Regions from separate parts of the Homo sapiens genome. Here all the other regions are reported to be linked to region 4. The links are microRNA targets in miRTarBase. Many come from high-throughput screens and were not tested one by one. Region 4 holds a microRNA gene; each other region holds the end of a gene's coding sequence.
Evidence for each region. Region 4 holds the annotated microRNA hsa-miR-3613-3p (ACAAAAAAAAAAGCCCAACCCUUC, at 1,265-1,288, opposite strand). A microRNA usually pairs through its seed, bases 2 to 8, with sites in the 3' UTR of a target mRNA and lowers its output. Matches are read on the target gene's strand: a 7mer-m8 pairs with bases 2 to 8, a 7mer-A1 pairs with bases 2 to 7 and ends in A, and an 8mer does both.

Region 1: miRTarBase lists KCNMB3 as a target of hsa-miR-3613-3p. The part of its 3' UTR that is shown has no 7-base or 8-base seed match.
Region 2: the mRNA of PNO1 is a reported target of hsa-miR-3613-3p. Seed matches in the 3' UTR shown: 7mer-m8 at 974-980, 7mer-m8 at 983-989 and 7mer-A1 at 1,507-1,513.
Region 3: miRTarBase lists CBX3 as a target of hsa-miR-3613-3p. Seed matches in the 3' UTR shown: 7mer-m8 at 664-670, 7mer-m8 at 880-886 and 7mer-m8 at 941-947.

Annotation. Positions count from the first base shown.
Region 1 is chr3:179,240,177-179,243,293 of GRCh38, reverse strand. It overlaps KCNMB3 (potassium calcium-activated channel subfamily M regulatory beta subunit 3), which reads left to right. Exons shown (of 3, transcript NM_171830.2): 3 at 10-523. The coding sequence ends at 390. Among named protein-coding and RNA genes, the nearest start is that of KCNMB3, 9.4 kb to the left of the region's middle.
Region 2 is chr2:68,174,454-68,177,570 of GRCh38, forward strand. PNO1 (partner of NOB1 homolog) reads left to right here. Exons shown (of 7, transcript NM_020143.4): 7 at 282-1,785. The coding sequence ends at 349. Among named protein-coding and RNA genes, the nearest start is that of PNO1, 18 kb to the left of the region's middle. RefSeq lists an enhancer at 1,165-1,334.
Region 3 is chr7:26,211,699-26,214,814 of GRCh38, forward strand. It overlaps CBX3 (chromobox 3), which reads left to right. Exons shown (of 6, transcript NM_016587.4): 5 at 1-58; 6 at 384-1,909. The coding sequence ends at 510. Among named protein-coding and RNA genes, the nearest start is that of CBX3, 12 kb to the left of the region's middle.
Region 4 is chr13:49,995,162-49,998,278 of GRCh38, forward strand. It overlaps MIR3613 (microRNA 3613), which reads right to left and starts at 1,340; the gene lies at 1,254-1,340. It overlaps TRIM13 (tripartite motif containing 13), which reads left to right and starts at 1,881. Exons shown (of 2, transcript NM_213590.3): 1 at 1,881-2,602. It overlaps DLEU2 (deleted in lymphocytic leukemia 2), which reads right to left. Exons shown (of 14, transcript NR_152566.1): 11 at 1,913-2,258. RefSeq lists silencers at 848-897, 1,488-1,617 and an enhancer at 1,178-1,307.

The DNA.
Region 1 (3,117 bases), not on the chromosome of region 4:
TATTCCTAGTGCTTTTACACACCTAAGTGCCACCAAGATAGAAATGATTTGCTCAACAGTGCTCTGGACATAAAAGAATTCTTCGATCACAAAAATGGAACCCCCTTTTCATGCTTCTACAGTCCAGCCAGCCAATCTGAAGATGTCATTCTTATAAAAAAGTATGACCAAATGGCTATCTTCCACTGTTTATTTTGGCCTTCACTGACTCTGCTAGGTGGTGCCCTGATTGTTGGCATGGTGAGATTAACACAACACCTGTCCTTACTGTGTGAAAAATATAGCACTGTAGTCAGAGATGAGGTAGGTGGAAAAGTACCTTATATAGAACAGCATCAGTTCAAACTGTGCATTATGAGGAGGAGCAAAGGAAGAGCAGAGAAATCTTAAGACGGTGGCCAAATTAAAGTGCTGGCCTTCAGATGTCTGTGATTTCTGCAACTGAGGACCTAATTATGCCTGTCTGCAAACTAATAATGTAAAAGGTAATAATTAAAGTATCATATTTTCATGTGGGAAAAAATTTAAAAGCCTCATTTTGTATTCTATTTATTTCTATAAATACATACAAATTCACCATCTTTTCTAATCCCAATCTCTTTCCAAATGAGCTAAGGAAGCACTGTTTTTTTTCCTGTATAGCAAAATGAGTTCAAGATATTCTTTGCCTAATTTCAGCTCTAGCTAGAACCAGTCAATATGGAAATAAACAATGAGGGTATCTAATCTACTGAACACTGAACCATCAGCCTAACTCTATGCAATATAGTCATACTAAAATATTTCTCATAAAAAAGTTCTTAACAGTTTGTTCACTATACAAAGACAAAAATCTGGTAGAAAACTTAAGAAAACATGGAGCTAACATATTTATTATAGTTTTTTTTTTTTTTCCTTTTTGAGATGGAGTTTTGCTCGTCGCCCAGGCTGGAGCACAGTGGCACAGTCTTGGCTCACTGTGACCTCTGCCTCCTGGGTTCAAGCAATTCTCTTGCTTCAGCTTCCTAAGTAGCTGGGATTACAGGTGTGCACCACCACGCCCAGCTAATTTTTGTATTTTTAGTGTAGACAGGGTTTCACCATGTTGGTCAGGCTGGTCTTGAGCTCCTGACCTCAGGTGATTTGCCCGCCTTGGCCTCCCAAAGTGCTGGGAATACAGGCATGAGCCACTGCGCTTGGCTTTAGTTTGTTCTTTACCAGTCTAGACAGCAGAGGAAAGCTGCTGCCTAGAAAATTCACTAAGTTTAGAGTTACTAGTATTTAGCCTTGTCATGTACCATGTAATTTTTCTTTCAGTAACATTTTTCTAGTTAATTAAGCTTTTCATAAGCTCATTTCACTTTGTGCACTTTCTGGTGGGAAAAATGGGCCAGAAATATGAAGAAGCTATACTGGATTTTAACATTCATCTCAGATGATCCACATCGTATTAGGCTGGTGCAAAAGTAATTCCAGTTTTTGCTGTTAACTTTTAATGGCGAAAAACCGCAATTATTTTTGCATCAACCTAATAGAAAAGAAGTCCCACATGGATAGTCAACAATTGTCTGTACTTTAATTAATGAATCAACCATGGTTATTAAATGATGTCATAAGGCTCTCAACAAATGCTTTCCAGGTTGATTAAGCCGAATCTATGAGTGGAAAAGAGATTTTGGTCTGATTTTCCAAAGTGCCTCAAAGTATCTTTAAAATTTTATTATACTCAAAAATCTTAAATTATGGACAGTGGAATGAGACATTTGAAGCTACTTTTGTATGTAGATGTAATCAAACAAAAAACTGATTCTAAGTCAGTTTAATCCCTTTTAGCAATTAATTTCGACACATATTACTAAATTAGCTGAATACAGCAATATTGACTTGATGAGTAATGAATAATCTTGGTGTTTTCCTTTCTAGTGTGCAATGGTGGAAAGAACATGTGTCTCAGAGTAGGATTTATTTGACTTTGTAGGCCATAATTACAACTTTGGGCAAATAAGCTAACCTGTGTAAACCTTTCTTTTCTCATCTATAAAATGGGGATAACCCGTTCTTTCACGCAGTTGTTATTTTATGGAATAAGCAAAGTAGGGCAGGTGAAACTTTAGCTTAGCTTCTAGCATCTAGTAGCAGTGCTCAAAAATGTTAGATCATTTATTTAAAAATCTGCTAGGTTATAACATTCAGTGAGCCTTGGTACTTTTCACTGGACAGCTGGTATAGAGGCTAGGGATAGGGAGCTGCAGTTCATTTTCCATGCCCCTACCTGAGTTCTCTTGGCTAAATGTGATACGCATTTAAGGCCCAGAACCTGCTGTTTAAAAGGTTGTGGTAAACTATTTTGTATACCAAAGACTTCTCTGTAATAAAGTATGTAAGTACACATGAACATTTGATGTGCACGCACATTTTAAATCATCTGCACATTGAGATTCTACACTTTTCTCAAGGGCACATCTCTATTCCGTTTTTGTAAATTTGACTTCTACCTAACAATATGCAGTTGCTGGGATTTTTTTTTTCCCTAACAAATTCAAAACTGCTAATTTAAAATATAAAGCGTGTGTTTCAATTACCACAGTTTTCCATTTAGATAGGAGCTACCTGATTCATTCCAGCAAAGAGAGAGATTATCCCTGGAGAACAAAGTCAATTCAAAATTATTTAAACCATTTGGCAAATAAATAAAATTTAAGTAATTATTTGCTTAATTGCTCAGAAATACTAAGTTGTTAATGCCTATGTGCATTAATGGTCAAAGAAAAGCCCACACTTACCTTTTGCAATGTTTATGAGAACTGAAAGCAAAACCAGTTTGCTTCTAGCCTAACTTCATTTCTAGGTTCTGATCTTCAAACGACTTGGAAAAAAGTCTACTTACCTATTGCATATACATACATACATTCATACATATATGTATATACATATATTTCTTAAAATACAAGCATATAATTCTTTATGCTTAAAGGAAGTAAATATTTAAACATACATTCCTTTAATATTCATCACTTTACTGGGGTAGAAAAATTGGCTTTTAAGGTATAATAGTTTCAGATTTTCAATCAAGTATTCTTAGTCATTACTGAAAAGAACTCAAATTCAGCTAAATTTTGATTATTAGCAACACCGGCT
Region 2 (3,117 bases), not on the chromosome of region 4:
ATGGCAAATTAAAAATAATACAAATTTTAAAACACAATACAGTACTATTTACATAGCATTTGCATTGTATTAGGTATTATAAGTAATCTAGAGATGATTTAAAGTATATGGGAGGATGTGGGTAGTTAATGTGCATATTTTTTATGTAAGAGACTTGAGCATCCAAGGATTGTGGTGTCTGTGGGAGTCCTGAAACCAGTCTTCCTTAGACACTGAGGGACAACTGTAGGCGCTATAAATGTGAGTTTATTTGTGTATATACTTTTTTTTCCCCTTTGCAGGAAATCCTCCTTCCAAGGTTTATGGCAATATTCGAGCTGTGGCTAGCAGATCAGCAGATCGATTCTGATTTCAAGTCAGAGACTTTTTATCTTGCCTTTGGACTCTGGTGAAAAATACTTTACAGTGGTCGGTCACAAGAAACCAGCTGAACAATTTCAGTCATTTGAAGCCTCCGTCCCTTCTTCCATTCTCAGCCAGAAGCATAAACAGAAAAGAAAGATTTAAGAGGATTCACACTCAACAGGTTTTAGGATAATTTAAATATCAAAAATTGATTGTTATACTTAACACATTAGGTATAATTTATCATTTATCTGAAATCACATGTAGCAGATTGCATAGTCTGTAATCCTCTCAGAGGGAAACTTCTTGTTTAAACAGCTCTATATGGATTTATACTTTTATATTTATAAATTTATAACTTCATACAAATTTATAAACATTTCTTTATAAATTGTAATTTAATAGATTATCTCAGAAAAACCTCTCTGAATGATGACCCTTCCTTAATACTGGGTGATGTGTGAATATTTGTTTGTTGGCAGACAGGGTCTCACTTTGTCACCCAGGCTAGAGTGCAGTGGTGCAATCTCAGCTCACTGCAGCCTCTGCCTCCTGAGTTCAAGTGATCCTCCTGCTTCAGCCTCCCTAGTAGCTGGGACTACAGGTATGCACCACCATGCCTGGCTAATTTTTTGTATTTTTTGTAGAGATGGGGTTTCGCCATGTTGACCAGGCTGGTCTTGAACTCCTGGCCTCAAGGGATCCGTCCGCCTCAGCCTCCCAAAGTGCTGGGATTACAGGCATAAGCCACTGCGCCTGGCCTTGATGTGTGAATATTTGAGAGGTCATAAGCAGTGGTTTTGGCCATACCGTATTATACCATATACATCAGTAAGAGCTCATCTTGGAACCTGTTTTGCAGTTTCTTGCAGTTTCAAAAATTAAAGACCTACATCACAGGGTTAATGTGAAGAAAGCTTTATTTTTCAAATGAGTATTTAATGAAAGTATACATAACCAATGTTGGGTATACAGATGCTTCTCAACTTATGATGGGTTTAGGTCCAGATAAGCCCACTGTGAGTTGAAAATACCAAAAGTCAAACATCATAGCTTAGCCTACCTTAAAAGGGCTCCGAACACTACATTAGCCTACAGTTGGGCAAAATCGTCTAATACAAAGCCTATTTTATAATAAAGTATGTTGAATATCTCATGTAATTTTTGAAGATTACATTGAAAGTGAAAAACAGAATGGTTGGGTACTTGAAATACAGCTTCTACTGAATGAATAATTCTAAAGTTGAAAAATAATAGTAAGAACCATCATAAGTCTGTTTCTTCTAGTAAAGGTGAAATGATGAAAGAATGCTTTTTTCCCACCCAAAAAACTATGCTCTATAAATGCAGATTAGCTAGTTTCTGCCTGTTTAAATGGTATTATTTTATACATTACAAAATGGAAGGAACTTACTTTATTAAACTTAACTTTGATACTTCTCTTATGCATCTCTAAAACCCTTGATGAAAACATGTAAACTTCAGTAATGGCAGTATTAGAAAGTTCATGTAGGAACTAAAAGAAAAATTGTTAAGCTTGTTTCCTTTATATCATCAGTTACATATCCCACTGTTCTAAGCTAGTTTGTACAGTATGTGGGATCGGATATACTTAGATATTTTTAAAAATTTCATTCATTAATGCTTTTTTTGCAAAATACTCAACTGGGAATCCAACTGGAAATTGCTGAGTATGTCCCACCTCAAATTATTTTTTTATCCTTTGGCAACAGCAGCATGGAGCAAGGATATGTACAATGATATCAGATCCTTTTACTCATACCTTTTTGAAAAAGATTTGGGACTTTTTTATTCTGGAGTCTGTACAGGTTTTCAGAGGTACTTGCCTACCTTCATCCTTTCCCCAGGAAGTTAAATTCAAAATTGTGACTATTTCATTTACTTTCCTGGGGAATGGGCCCATGCCTGTAATCAGGTTTTCCAAGCACTTGGACTGAATTGAACCATTGCTAGGTGACCATAAATGTTTTGAATCGACTTTCAAGGAATGGAGGAGGCAGGAAGTTAAAAGCATCATTTCAACTGCGAAAATATGGGTTATCTGTATTAAAGGGAAATAACGTTTTGGTATTATCCAAATTACTTCCCCTTTTGAAGATTTCCTATGTAATTACAACTGTCAGTAATACAAGAGAGCAAATATATTTCCCTGGCAGCTGCTAAAATTTGGAATGCTGAACGTTGGTTTAAGGAGTTGCTTTCACCTCCTCCCCACCCCCGCCCGCCGCTTAGTTAAGCGTTTGTATCTCCTGTTCCCCAGTAGTAGTAGTAGTACTACTTGGGGCTTTTGAAAGGGAGAGAAAATGTTAGGGGAACCCAATTAATAATCCTTGGGATGGGAAAGTATGAAGAAGGAATAGAGGTAATAAATTTGACTATCATACTGGCAGTTGATCTTAACCTGGGTCAAATAACTTCATTAAACCCTTCTCTAAGGCCAAGACACTAAATCTAATACTTCCAACCTTACCTGTTTCTATGGCGCTTGTCACTCTATATTGTAATTATTGTGTCTGCCTGCCACCCTAAGGCTTATATTTTGGATACTCAGTATCTGGTACGATTTTCTGACATACACTTTACATATGTATTCACTGATACATTGCCTGGGAGATGGGCCTGAGAGAAGAGCATTTTCTTAGGTATTCGTGGCTGGCAAGAGACCCATGGAGTTTCCTCCTAGTCACTCGCTCCTGAAGAGCTGGGCTCCAACTCTCATGCCACCTAGAACTAGGAATGGTATGCAAGAAA
Region 3 (3,116 bases), not on the chromosome of region 4:
CTGAAAGAATAATTGGTGCCACAGACAGCAGTGGAGAATTGATGTTTCTCATGAAATGGTGAGTATGCAGAGATTGTTACATTTGAAAGTAAGAGTAGCTTTTTTTTTTTAATTTGTGAAATGGTTTTTCATCATTAGGTAGGGAAAAACTATCTGCTGAGAGGATGATTCTGGTTACTTTTACTAGTAGTGTTTTAAAGCAAGGGTCAGCAAACTGTGGCCTGTTTTGAAAATGAAGTTTATTAGAACATAGCAACAAGTAACATAACTCTCCTGGAGCACTTCAATACCTTTTGTTTGGACTATTATTTCTTAAATGAATGGCTGTCGGTTGACATGAACAACTTCGACTTGTAACTGAATTTTTCTTTTTCTTAAAACAGGAAAGATTCAGATGAGGCAGACTTGGTGCTGGCGAAAGAGGCAAATATGAAGTGTCCTCAAATTGTAATTGCTTTTTATGAAGAGAGACTAACTTGGCATTCTTGTCCAGAAGATGAAGCTCAATAATTGTTCACATTGTTCTTTTATATATATTTATATATATATATAAAAATTGGGTCTTAGATTTTGATTTACTAGTGTGACAAAATAACTACATCCTAATGAAAATCAAGTTTGATATGTTTGTTTTGAAAGTAGCGTTGGAAGAGTTGTTGGGGGTTTTTTGCATCCATAGCACTGGTTACTTTGAACAAATAAATAAAAGCTTTCTGTAGTTGCTTCCTTTATCAGAAAAGAACATTTGATACCATGGTATATCATTTCCTCTTCATTAAAGAACAGCTTTTCTAAATGTTGGGGGAAATGTCCATAGTCATTACTCAGTCAAAACTTGTGTTCTCATGAGCCTAAGGACCATTCTAGATTTATTACGTGTTTTTTGTGTGTGTGTGTGTGTGTGTGTGTGTGTGTATCCATAAAATGCATATGTAAATTTTTTTTTGTTTTTAAGCATTCACCCAAACAAAAAAATCACAGGTAAACCCATGTTTCTGAGATGCCATTATTCCAAGCAAAATAAGAGATAATCCCTTCAAGTTAAATTGAAAATTTTCCTGAAACCATACATTTCAAGTGAAATAAGTAATTCTAGATAGGACAATTTAAATTGGATAATTTTAAAGTGTCTATAATTGCAGTGGTTTATTTGCAAAATTCCTAAAAGGAAAAATTTTATCACTGCCATCACAGCAGGTTTCCTCATCCAGATGAGGAAACTAGACAAATGCTAGTGTGTTTTAACTAGCTAAACAAAACTAAGTTAAATGAACATTTAAAAGTTTCCCTAGCGGGCCATTCCTTAGCAAAATGTTGGAATCCCTGTTGCTACATTGACTAAAAGGTCATGATGAATGGAATATGTAAGACTTGGCTCATAGAAACCTAATCAGATGGTTAGAGGTGTTGGCAGTTTAGGACCTGCTGTCATAAATGTGTGAACAACCTTTTGTAACCTAACCTATTGACCTGCATGTTTTTTCTTTACCCCAATTCATTACATGGAGGCTCAATCTTGAGTTTGCTTTACTGGTTCAGCAAAAGCCAGGAAGAACAACTTTGTAGTAATCAAAATGTTATCCAACTGTATATTGTTTACTTTATTGTAAATACTGGTGAACAGTGGTTAATAAATAGTTTTATATTCCTTTATGCAATTATTAGACTTTTTTCTTTATTTGATATGCCTTTACAGTAGAAATAGAAATGCCCACACTCATTGGATTATCTTTGTTTATAAGTTAGATGATACCAGTAAGGCATTACAGTACATATCCTAGATCTTTTGAGCTTACGAGTTTTAAACTTGAATATGTATTTCCACAGGAATGTTTCCACAGTTGGGAAATAAAAGTTTCATGTGATGCCTAGGGTCAATTGTCTCATTAAAATGAGGTTTTAAATTCTGGTTTGTTGTAACTGTCTTCTAAAGAATGTAAAGTATTCTGATAGGGCTCAGTGTGATGATAGACACATTTTAATTGATTTCCAAAATCCATACAGAAAAAGGTAAATAACTGATGTTTATTAAGTACCTCCTTATATATATATATATATACCCACCACTGCTCTCAGCGGTGGGTTCACAGATGATAGAGAACCTTCTATTCATATTAGTAGTTGGTGGCCCTACATTCAATTTTACTAAGGGCATTTCTGAAAACAATATATTGTCCTTTGGCCATGCATGGTGGCACACACCTGTAATCCCAAAATTTGGGGAGGCCAACGCAGGAAGATTACTTGAATCCCAGAAGTTTGAGATCAGCCCGGGCAACAGTGAGACCCCCACCTCTACAAGAAATTTTAAAATTAGCTGGGTGTGGTGGCTTGCACCTGTAGTCCTTGCTACTTGGGAAGGTCCCTTAAGCCTAGGAGTTTAAGGTTACAGTGAGCTCTATGTCAATACCACTGTGCTCCAGCCTGGATGACAGACTGTTTCTCAAAAAATTTGAAAAATATTGTTTTTTTATATTCTCTAGTGTTTGTATTAGTTTCTTATTGGTGCTTTAACAAATTACCACAAATTTAACCCATTTATGGCTGAAAATAGTTCTGTAGGTCAGAAGTCCAAAATTAAGCAAGCTGAAGTCAGGTTATCAGGGGAATTCCTTCTGGAGGCTTTGATGGCAGAATCTTTCCTTCTCTCTTCCATTTCAAAAGGCCACGTATATTCTTTGGTTCCTGGCCCTTTCCATCTTCAGAATCAGCAAGCAGTGGAGCATCTTGCATCATCTTTCTCGCCCTTCCTCTCTTCCTCTTTCCATCTCTCCTGTCTACCACGGTGTATTATGGAAGGATTGAGCCAAACCATTCATTCAAATTCTTGAATTCCTGGAGCTTAGATCTTTAGCTGAAGAGAAAACCCTTTTTCTATCATTTCTACCCTCTGATGTTTATGTAATAGGCTTCTTGTAACAACTCAGATGCTACAGAAGTAAGGCCACCTCATCAATTTCCTTGCTTCAAACCCGAAGTTCAATTGATACCCATATCTCTGGATTTCAAGACCAGCCTGGCCAACATAACAAAACCCCCTCTCTACTAAAAATACAAAAATTAGCCAGGCATGGGGGTGTGTTCCTGTAATCTCAGCTGCTGTGGAGGCTGAGGCA
Region 4 (3,117 bases):
GTAGGATCTCGGCTCACTGCAACCTCCATCTCCCGGGTTCAAGCTATTCTCCTGCCTCAGCCTCTCAAGTAGCTGGGACTACAGGCATACGGCACCATGACCGGCTAATTTTTGTATTTTTAGTAGAGACCAGGTTTCACCATGTTGGTCAGTCCGGTCTGGAACTCCTGACCTCAGGTGATCTGCCCGCCTCGACCTCCCAAAGTGCTGGGATTACAGGCGTGAGCCACCGTGCCTGGCCTAAAAACACTAAATTTAGTAAGGTACTGGGGTGCAGTTTTGTCACTGACAGTTATGGTGCTGTAGAAAGAGCCCATATCTGGAAGCTGCCTTTAGCCTCAGCTCTGCCTCTTGCTTTTGTACCTTGGAAAAGTCACTTCACCTGTTTTCTCATCTATATAGGATGAAGATCATAATTTCTTTTACACAGTGTTATGAGACTGAATGACAGAAATTAAAAGAAGTGTTCTACGAAGGCAAAGTTAGGTTTCTTATAGCAGGAAGGGAGATGCACACAGAGAAGTGGGAATCTCAGGAGACGGATGTGGCCAGGGGCTTTTTACGGGGGTTGGGCTAAGCATTATTAGTCAACGGGCTGTACTGCTATTTATGGTAGGTTTTGAATACCGTTTCTCCAAAATAACCTATTTCCTCCCCAAACCCAAACTTCCTCAACTGGGATCGAACTCAATCCTACAGCGTGTTCTGAGATTCTATACTCGCCTCACTTCTCCCAAGATCGTAAATTCTGGAGGAGCCATTCCTTCATCATCCATGTTTGCATCCTTCACACCGTTCACTGGTTAAGTGCTTAGTACGTTTGCTATTGGGCAAGGTCCTCAAACGGGAGGTGGACGTCAGAATAGTCAGGTTATCGACTGAGTAACTGTTAGTGGTGGATAATTTAAAGCCAATTTGAAAGTTCATCCTTTCCCCCAAAGGCAAAAACAGGCGTTCCTTTTCTTAAAAGAGAATTTTAAATAGAATTGGGTCTCTGGTGTCCTGCCTAAAGCCCGCAAAGAAAGAGGGTACGGTTGGGGGTGGGGGTGATGGGGGATACTGAACCCTTTTCTGGTTGCGCCTTGCCCGGAGCCCCCGGCTAGAGCCCTGGCGCTCCTGGCGCGCTCCCAACGCGAATCGGTGACTCCGCAGGCCGCGCAGTGCGGAGGTGCCCGTCCCACCCTCCCCCTTGTGGGGTGCGGGGCTCCATTTCCCCAAGCCGCTGGGGTCGGCTTCTGGTCTTGAGATGCGGATGAAGTGGTGTGAAGGGTTGGGCTTTTTTTTTTGTTCCTAAAAATGCAACGAACAAAAAAAAAAGTACAACAATCCAAACCCAACCATCTTAATTGCACGGCAGCTTAACTGGGAGACTTTCTTCCCGGGCGGCCCCACCCGGGACCGCGCCGCTTCAGTCGAGCCCACCGTCTGGGCAAACGGCGTCCACTTCCCGGAGCCGCTGCCCAGCCTCTGCGGGGGGGCTTTGGGCGGGCGCAGGACTCTGGAAGGGAGAAAAGCCCGCAGCCCGGCCCTCCCCGTCCCAGGCGGCCCGCGCGGGTGGACGGCGGGAGCAGGCGGCGGTTGGAGACGCCGGAAGGAACGCGGTCTCACCACCCGGCTCCCTCCGCCAAGGCGAGGCGCGGCCGGGGAGGCGGGACACAGGCGAAGCGGGACGGGGAGGCGGGGCCGGAGGTGCAGGCGGAGGCGGGCGACGGGGAAGGGAGGGGGAGGGGGAGGGGAAAGGGAGGGGGAGGGGGAGGGGAAAGGGAGGGGGAGGGGGGAAGGGACGGGAGGGGAGGGGGAAGGGACGGGAGGGGAGGGGGAAGGGACGGGAGGGGAAGGGGAAGCGGGAGAGGGAAGGGGGCGGAGCTAGCCGGAGCCGCGAGTCCATTTTGGGGCTGTGCTTGGCGCGTACCGTGCGGTCCCTGTAGTTGGAGGACGGGCGGTCGCGCGGCCTTTCCCACTAGCCGGAGGTCGGAGATAAGTACCCGCCGCCCGGCTCCTCTCGGGAAAGCGGGGTGGTCCTCGAACCTTCAGCGAGGGTGGGGAGTTGCCCAGGTCAGCAGGGATCTGCGTGGGTTGGGGGGGCTGGCGAAGGCCGTCTGAGCTCCAGTCCGGCAGCGCGGCAGAAACCAGCGGGGCACTGTCATGGGCCTGGGGAGGAGCGGCCTGCGGAGGGCGCCGGGGCAGTGTGTCTGTGGTCCAGAAAACCTGCTCCGTCCGGAGCCTTCCTGGCCCCGCTACCAGCGTCTCCACATCCCCTAGAAAAGAAAAGACGGGTGTGGGCCTTAGGTTACAGCGCGCCGCCAGCGTTTGGTTGCATGGCGCCGGGGGAGGGCGCCCTAACCGAGAAGCTGCTTAATACAAAGAGCTCCAGGCTCCTGGCGGTTCACCAGGTCTAAACAGCCGGGCTTTATTTGTGGGGGCGATTGAAAAAATTGAGGGTCAAGATTGGGGTGCTGTGCAAATAAATGCGTTAATACTGTTCTTTTTCTTCTTTCTTTGCAGTAGCCTCTAGTTCGTTAGTCAAAACGTGAAAAAAAAGACCTGCTTTGCCCTGGGAAATAGTAACCCTGCCAAATACATCAGCTTGTAGGAGACAGAGGTAAACTACAATAATTTTCCTGTGTTATCTTTTTTTTTTAAACACCCAATTTCAATAGGCCCTAGAACCTTCCAAAATGGAACTGTGTGTAGAATACGTATGTTCCCATCCACTTTCATTGGTGGTCTTTGTTCTTTGCATATTTTGTTAAAACTTAGAAAAACAGAATTCACGTTTAGCAATTATTTATGTGGTATTTATCTTAAATATAGCCAAACATTCATATTACAAAGGAAGAAAGGGGCTTCCACACTTTTTTCCTACTTTTTTTTCCCTTCTCCTATGCTTAGTGAATTGTCAGGCTGCTAGGGCTTGTAGAACAGGGCTTGAGTTTTCTAGAGACCTTTATATAATAGGCACTTTAAAAGCAGAATTTCATTTACATAGGCACTCCTTCTAGTAGAACTTGATGGAGCTGTTAACCGGCTATACTTCCTTCTTGCACAATGGGAGCGTCCCTATCCCTCCCTAAAAATACGTTTTTTTTCCTTTCTCCCAGCTGGCTTACTAAACCT